Linked DNA regions of Homo sapiens. The protein of the gene in region 2 interacts with the protein of the main gene of each other region in a biochemical or structural test. Each region holds a gene or a part of one and is shown on either strand. Other genes may lie near its edges.

Region 1 (3,652 bases), on a different chromosome or scaffold from region 2:
CATCATAAACCAAAACTTGTCTGGCATAAAAGGCCTTCTATGTATTTGAAATAGACATATTTCCTAATTATTTGCTTTTAGAATACATTCACTCACATCGACTGTTTCTTTGTAGTTACAATTTCTTATTACCCCTGAACCAGGCATTTCTAGATTTCTCTCAGTTGCACTATCCTTGGCCCAGATAATCTTCCCAGGAGGTGTGTGACACGTGAATAGGGAGAGACACCAAGAGAAAGATACCCAGAAGCCTTTGCCAGGCCACCAGTGTCTCCCAGAAGAGCTGGGAGACAATAGTCCTCTCACCTGAGGCAGAGCCGTTCCGTAAACAGGATCAGTTGTTTCAGGCTGGTTGATGTGAAAGAAATGTGAAAGAACATTTGCCCAATATTTGTAACATGTTACCATCCAGTAGTCTGATTCTGTGGGTTTTCAGGAGCATAAATTAGTAAATTAGTGAGGAGGTGTGATAATGAAGAGGGTGTGGTGGGTCACATCCTTGGGTGGTGCTTACAGGAGCTCCATGAATAGGTGCTAAGGAATTTGAATCCTGGCTTTCTTGTTTTGTGGACATGTTCTGCTTGTTAAGGGGTGTGTGTGTGTGTGTGTGTGTGTGTGTGTGTGTGTGTGTGTGTGGTTTTGAGCTACTTTGTTTAAAAGGCTGCTTTTAGTGTTGGCACTATGGTCCTTAAAACAAATAAGGTGTTTACAAGCAAAAGTTCTGATTGAAAGTGTTTCATTTTGTAAATATTTGGGAGATGGCATAAAGAGAAACTTGAGGTCTTGTGTGAAAACACTTTAAAGTTGCAGCTGTTGGACCAGAGGAAACATGCTTTTCCAACAAAGCTTGGTATCCTTGAGTGCCCTAGGTGTTTGGTTCAGGAAATAATCACAGAGCTTGTAACTGCTGTGGGGCCCTCCCTGGCTTCAAGCCGTGCTCTGGTATTTCCAGTGTTAAGTCTATCCTTATATTGCCGGAAACAAAGCAAGGTGTCCAACTTGGGTTAGCAAACTTGTTTTCTCTCTAGAGGGGACACCAGTCAAAATAGAAGTTCTATATTCTGTTGTGATTTTTTCCTCTTTGGATGAGGAATATGGTGACTTATTTTGGTATTACAATTTCTAACTTGGTAATAGAGGTAATATTCTAAGTGAATACCAATCTTAAGTACGCACAGCATCTGTTGTAGTGGTTTCAAGACCTCAAAGTTTAGGCCGGGCGCGGTGGCTCAAGCCTGTAATCCCAGCACTTTGGGAGGCCAAGTCGGGAGGATCATGAGGTCAGGACATCGAGACCATCCTGGCTAACACGGGGAAACCCCGTCTCTACTAAAAATACAAAAAATTAGCCGGGTGTGGTGGCGGGTGCCTGTAGTCCCAGTTACTCAGGAGGCTGAGGCAGGAGAATGTCCTGAACCAGGGAGGCGGAGCTTGCAGTGAACGGAGATTGCGCCACTGAACTCCAGCCTGGACTACAGAGCGAGACTCCGTCTCAAAACAACAACAACAACAACAACAACAAAACCCTCAAAGTTTAGAGGAAATTGATTGCACAGGTACTATTTAAGAAACTGGTACTGAGAGCATTTTCTCTATTTCTGTATGTGGCTTGGAGGTAATGTCTGGTTGACAGATCAGGCTAGGGTGGATGATACCCCTCTTGAAGATGCATTCACTTAGCAAGTGTACTGTCTTTTATGTAGATTATATTATTTAGAGTGGCTGAGGCTGCTGATAGAGACCAGCGTTGAAGTGTGGATCTGAAGTTCACCCCCTTTCTCTGAGCTGTCACCTTGTTTGTAGCCCCACTGAAACAGGGACAGACGAACATGAGATTCAAGTTGATTTTAGTGACCTATATTTCATCCAGCAGATTTTTTTTTTCAGAAATAAAAGGTTACCTTTTAATTTTTTAGTATCCTTTCCACTGTTCTAGGAGCAGGGGGAGAACAGAGCATTTCAGGGAGAGTTTGCATTCATAGTCCACAAGTTTGCATACATAGAACATGTGTCTAAAAATGAACTGAATGTTAAGTCCTAGAAGCACAGCAACAAGTGTGCAGAGCCTTCCCCATCACTCCCAATTAATCTGGGGTTACCAAATACACCCTCAGCTTTGGTGAGCTTGTTTTCCTCATTGATGTTTAAGCGTTCCTGGTTTTTACTCTGTCTGTGACTTTCTGCAGTAATGGCTGTCCACGTCTGGAATGTGCTTCCCTCTGAGTGTCTGGATTATCTTGTGCTTTCATATCTAGCTCAGGTGCCACAGCTTCCACGAAGCCTTCCCTGCCCTTCCTCCTTAAAGCACTTAGCTTGACCACACAACACTTACAGCTAATTTGATACCGATATTGTATGTGAGGTGCCTACCTCATGCCAAGCCCTTTCTAATACTTTCCATGGGCTACGTCATTGACTGCACATAATTATACAAGATAGATACTTTTATTGCCATGTTCTAGATGAGGAAACTGAGGCACAGAGAAGTTAAAGAACTTGCCTAGCTTAGGCCACACAGCCTGTAAGTGGCAGACCAGGTTAGGGACTCAAGCAGTCTAGTTCTTTATACATCCTGATGTTGCCTGGTTTCTGACTTTCCGGCACGTTATTCTTTTCTCTGCAACTCGAGTTGGGGTAATCACAGCTTCCTTTGAGTCTCTTAATTCTCAGACAGTGCTGGGTCAGTAAGTCCTGGATTAATTGAGAGTAAAATGACTTCTTCATGTCACAGGTTCTTACAGCCTGATTTTCTGGAACAGAAAATGTTGTGTGAGATTAAAAATGTTGTTTTTGAGTATTTAAATGATAAAACTTTGGAGCTCTCCTTTGCTGTATGAACGATAGACAAATTATTTGAAAAAGGAAATGCTCTTATATTACAACTCTAAATCTGTTTGGAGCCTGTCCAGCATTAGACCTTATTTGTTAAGTGAGGTAACTTTTCACTGGGTTGAATCCCTCATCTGATAAAAGATCTTCTCACCCTGAACAGGGCCACAGAAGCCTGTGTTGAGAGTTAAGAGGGCCCATAATTTCTCAGCCTCCCTCTTCCCTGTAGTCTTTTAACATACATTGTGAAAGCTCTTTTGAAAAGAAAATAATGAACACTTGAGCAGTAGTCAAACATGTAATCTAATATTGGATAGCCTTAGATATTAAAATAAACTTTTTCCCCCCACCTCAGAAGAGATACTTTTATTTATTTTTACAGTGGAGCAAATTTGGTGCCAAATAAACAATTTCTATTCTTTTAAACCATAGCCACAGTTGTGAATTAAATGGGGAAAACCAGGGAAGCAAGTTCAATTTCCAATGCAGTTGGTGCGATTTCGTGACTTACAATAGATCTTTTCCTTTTGGCTTAAAACTAGATATTGTGCCACTTAGACAATATTTAATGAAGACAATTGACTAAAACACAAGGAAATAATAGGAAAGCTATGCCTTAACGGCATATTGCCAGGAAGGGAAACATGAAAACAAAAGGCTTGTTAGCCATTAGGCTACACAATCATAAAATTTTTTGAACAGACATTGATTTCAGAAGGTTTTTCTTTTTTCTTAATCATTCATCTTGTTATACTTTTTTTTTTTTTTTTTTTTTTGAGACAATCTTGCTCTGTCGCCCAGGCTGGAGTGCAGTGGTGCGATC
Region 2 (3,652 bases):
TCAAGTGCCAGACATGTAGCCCTTCAACTAACTTATTTTATTTATTTATTTTTTGAGATGGAGTTTTGCTCTTGTTGCCCAGGCTGGAGTGCAATGGCGTGATCCCAGCTCACTGCAACCTCCACCTCCTGGATTCAAGTGATTCTCCTGCCTCAGCCTCCCCATTAGTTGGGGTTTACAGGCATGTCACCATGCCCAGCTAATTTTTTTTTTTTTTTTTTTTTTTTTGAGACACAGTCTCGCTCTGTCACCCAGGCTGGAGTGCAGTGGCGCGATCTCGGCTCACTGCAACCTCCGCCCTCCGAGTTCAAGCAGTTCTCCTTCCTCAGCCTCCTGAGTAGCTGAGACTACAGGTGCCCGCCACCACGCCCGGCTAGGTGTTTTTTTTTTTTGTATTTTTAGTAGAGACAGGGTTTTACCGTGTTAGCCAGGATGGTCCCGATCTCCTGACCTCAGGTGATCTGCCTGCCTCCGCCTCCCAAAGTGTTGGGATTATAGGTGTGAGCCACCGCGCCTGGCCTACTTTTTTTATTATTTTTTTTTTTGGAGACAAGAGTCTCGCTCTGTCGCCCAGGCTGGAGTGCAGTGGCGTGATCTCGGCTCACTGCAAACTCTGCCTCCCGGGTTCATGCGGTTCTCCTGCCTTAGCCTCCCAGGTAAACTGGGACTACAGGTGCATGCTGCCACGCCTGGCTAATTTTTTTTTTTTTTTGTATTTTAGTAGAGACGGGGTTTAACCATGTTGCCCAGGCTGGTCTCCATCTCCTGAGCTCAGGCAATCTGCCTGCCTTGGCCTCCCAAAGTGCTAGGATTACAGCCGTGAGCCACCGTGCCTGGCCTTCTGGCCTTTTTTTTTTTTTTTTTTTTTTTTTTTGAGACGGAGTCTTGCTCTGTTGTCTAAGCTGGAGTGTAGTGGCACAATCTCGGCTCACTGCAATCTCTGCCTACCAGGGTGCAAGCGATTCTCCTGCCTCAGCCTCCCAAGTAGCTGGGACTACAGGTGCGTGCCACCATGCCCGGCTAATTTTGTGTGTGTGTGTGTGTGTGTGTGTTTTACTAGAGACGGGGTTTTACTTTGTTGGCCAGGCTGGTCTTGAACTCCTGACCTTGTGATCCACCTGCCTTGGCTTCCCAAAGTACTGGGATTACGGGTGTGAGCCACTGCGCCTGGCTTTTTTTTGGAGAGATAAGGTCTTGTTTTGTCATCTAGGCTGGAGTGCAGTGGCACAGTCATAGCTCATGGTGGCCTCCAACTTTTGGTGTCAAGGTATCCTTACGCCTCGTCCTCCCTAGTAGCTGGGACTACAGGTGTATGTGCCACTGCGCCCAGCTAATATTTTTACATTTTGTAGAGATGGAGTCTTGCTGTCTTGCCCAGGTTGGGTCTCAGACTCCTGGGCTCAAACAGTCCTCCCACCTCAGACTCCCAAAGTGCTGCAAGTACGGGCATGAGCCACTGAGTCCAGCTATCTTCAACTTTCACTATTCAGGTTACAGTTTGTAGTACCTTTTTTCGGGGGTGGTGGGAGGGTAGTGGGAGTAGCACCCTAAGATTTCTTGGAATAAAACAGGGCTTACTACTTGGTTCCTGGTACTTAAGAACAGTGGTTCCTAGACTCCACTGTTCCCAAACTTGGAATCCAGTTCCCCAAATTGGAATCACCTGAGGTTTAATTACCTTCATGGAGGTTTAATTTGCATACAATAAAATGCACATACTTTAAATGATAGTTTGATAATTTTTTTGTTCTTATTTTTTTTAGACATAGGGCCTTGTTCTGTCACCCAGCTGAAGTGCAGTGTCGGAATCATGGCTTACTACATCCTCGACCTCCTAGGCCCAAGAATTCTCTGCTTTAGCCTCCCGAGTAGCTGGGACTGCAGGTGTGCACCACCACGCCTGGCTACATTTTTATTTTGTAATTTTTTTTTTTGTAGAGAGAGGGGTCTCACTATGTGCTCAGACTGGTCTTGAACTCCTGGCCTTAAGTGATTCTCTCGTCTCAACCTCACAAAGCCCTGGGATTATAGGCATGAGCCACCACAAACCGCCAGTTTGATAAATTTTGATGAATGTGTATACCCAAGTAATTGCCACTCAGTCGAGTTAAAGAGCATTTCCTCAAGGCTTTAAATTTTTATTTTTATTTTTGAGACGGAGTCTTATTCTGTCATCTAGGAGTGCAGTGCCGCAATCTTGGCTCACTGCAGCCTCTGCCTCCCGGGTTCAAGTGATTCCCCTGCCTCAGCCTCCTGAGTAGCTGGGACTACAGGTGCGTGCCACCACACCCAGCTAACTTTTTGTATTTTTAGTAGAGATGGGGTTTCACTCTGTTAGCCAGGATGGTCTCGATCTGATCTTGTGATCCGCCTGCCTCTGCTTCCCAAAGTGTTGGGATTACAGGCGTGAGCCACCGCGCTCGGCGGGTTTCTTTTTTTTTTTTTTTATGAGATGGAATCTCGCTCTGTTGCCCAGGCTGCAGTGCAGTGGCACGATCTCAACTCACTGCAACCTCCGCCTCTCGGGTTCAAGCGATTCTTCTGCTTCAGCCTCCCGAGTAGCTGGAACTACAGGCACCCGCCACCACGCCCGGCTAATTTTTTGTGTTTTTAGTGGATACGGGGTTTCGCCATGTTGGCCAGGCTGGTCTCAAAGGCCTGACCTTGTGATCCTCCTGCCTCGGTCTCCCAAAGTGCTGGAATTACAGGTGTGAGCCACTGCTCCTGGCCTAAAGTTTTTTAGACTAGTTTTTTTGTTCATTCGTTTTATTTGCTTGGCTTCCTAGAATATGACAAGTTTTGGTTTGTTTTTGAGACAGAGTCTTGATCTGTTTCCCAGGCTGGAGTGCAGTGGTGCTATCGTGGCTCACTGCAGCCTCTAACTCTTGTGCCCAAGTAATACTCCTGCCTCAGCCTCATGAGCATCTGGGACTACAGGCAAGCACCACCATACCTAGTTAATTAATTTAATTTTTATAGAGATGACGTTTTGCCATGTTGTCCAGGCTGGTCTCTAACTCCTGAGCTCTGGCCTCGCAAAGTGGTGGGATTATAGGTGTGAACCACTGCACCCGGCCTAGTTTTTTATTTTAAGAAATATATATACTTGGTAAAAGTAAACTCCTGCAATAAGGTTTACAATAAGCATATATAAATTCTTAGCCAGCTCACTGGGAGGTACCTAATGGTTCATTTTTCTTTGTCAGTTTTACTAGATACGCATTGTCTTAGAGGCAATGTAAGTTTGGAATTAGGCCAAACAAAGTCAAATCCTGATTCTGTGCATCCATTGAAGGTTAACCTTATAATATTTACATTTTGAGATAAATGATTTCATGCTCTTATTTAGGAAACTTGACGGTATGTTACCTCAGGGATTGTTCCTTGCCTGTCTTTCCCCAAAGAACTTGAGTTTGAAGTGATTTTCACTTGGCAGTAAATTGAAGGTTTTCTTCATTGCTTACCACCATGTGCCTTATTCCTGCTGCTCTTGATCTCCAAGTGCCCTTACTGCTACAGAAAGGAAAGCTCTTGAACTAAGAGCTTGGCAGCCACTTGATCAGGATGGCCAAATAATGGCAGTACAGGTTGAGCATCTGAAATGCTTCAAGATGGGCGCTGGCATGACATTCAAAGGAAATGCCTAGTGGTG

What was found. Proteins that work in one complex are often made in the same cells at the same time.
Region 1: the proteins of RHOA (region 2) and DAAM1 form a complex in vitro, tested with the Homo sapiens proteins (one study listed by IntAct).

Annotation. Positions count from the first base shown.
Region 1 is NC_000014.9:59,191,559-59,195,210, forward strand, and holds part of DAAM1 (disheveled-associated activator of morphogenesis 1), read left to right. Parts: intron 1-3,652. UniProt on the Homo sapiens protein: Binds to disheveled (Dvl) and Rho, and mediates Wnt-induced Dvl-Rho complex formation. May play a role as a scaffolding protein to recruit Rho-GDP and Rho-GEF, thereby enhancing Rho-GTP formation. Can direct nucleation and elongation of new actin filaments.
Region 2 is NC_000003.12:49,401,834-49,405,485, reverse strand, and holds part of RHOA (transforming protein RhoA isoform 1 precursor), read left to right. Parts: intron 1-3,652. UniProt on the Homo sapiens protein: Small GTPase which cycles between an active GTP-bound and an inactive GDP-bound state.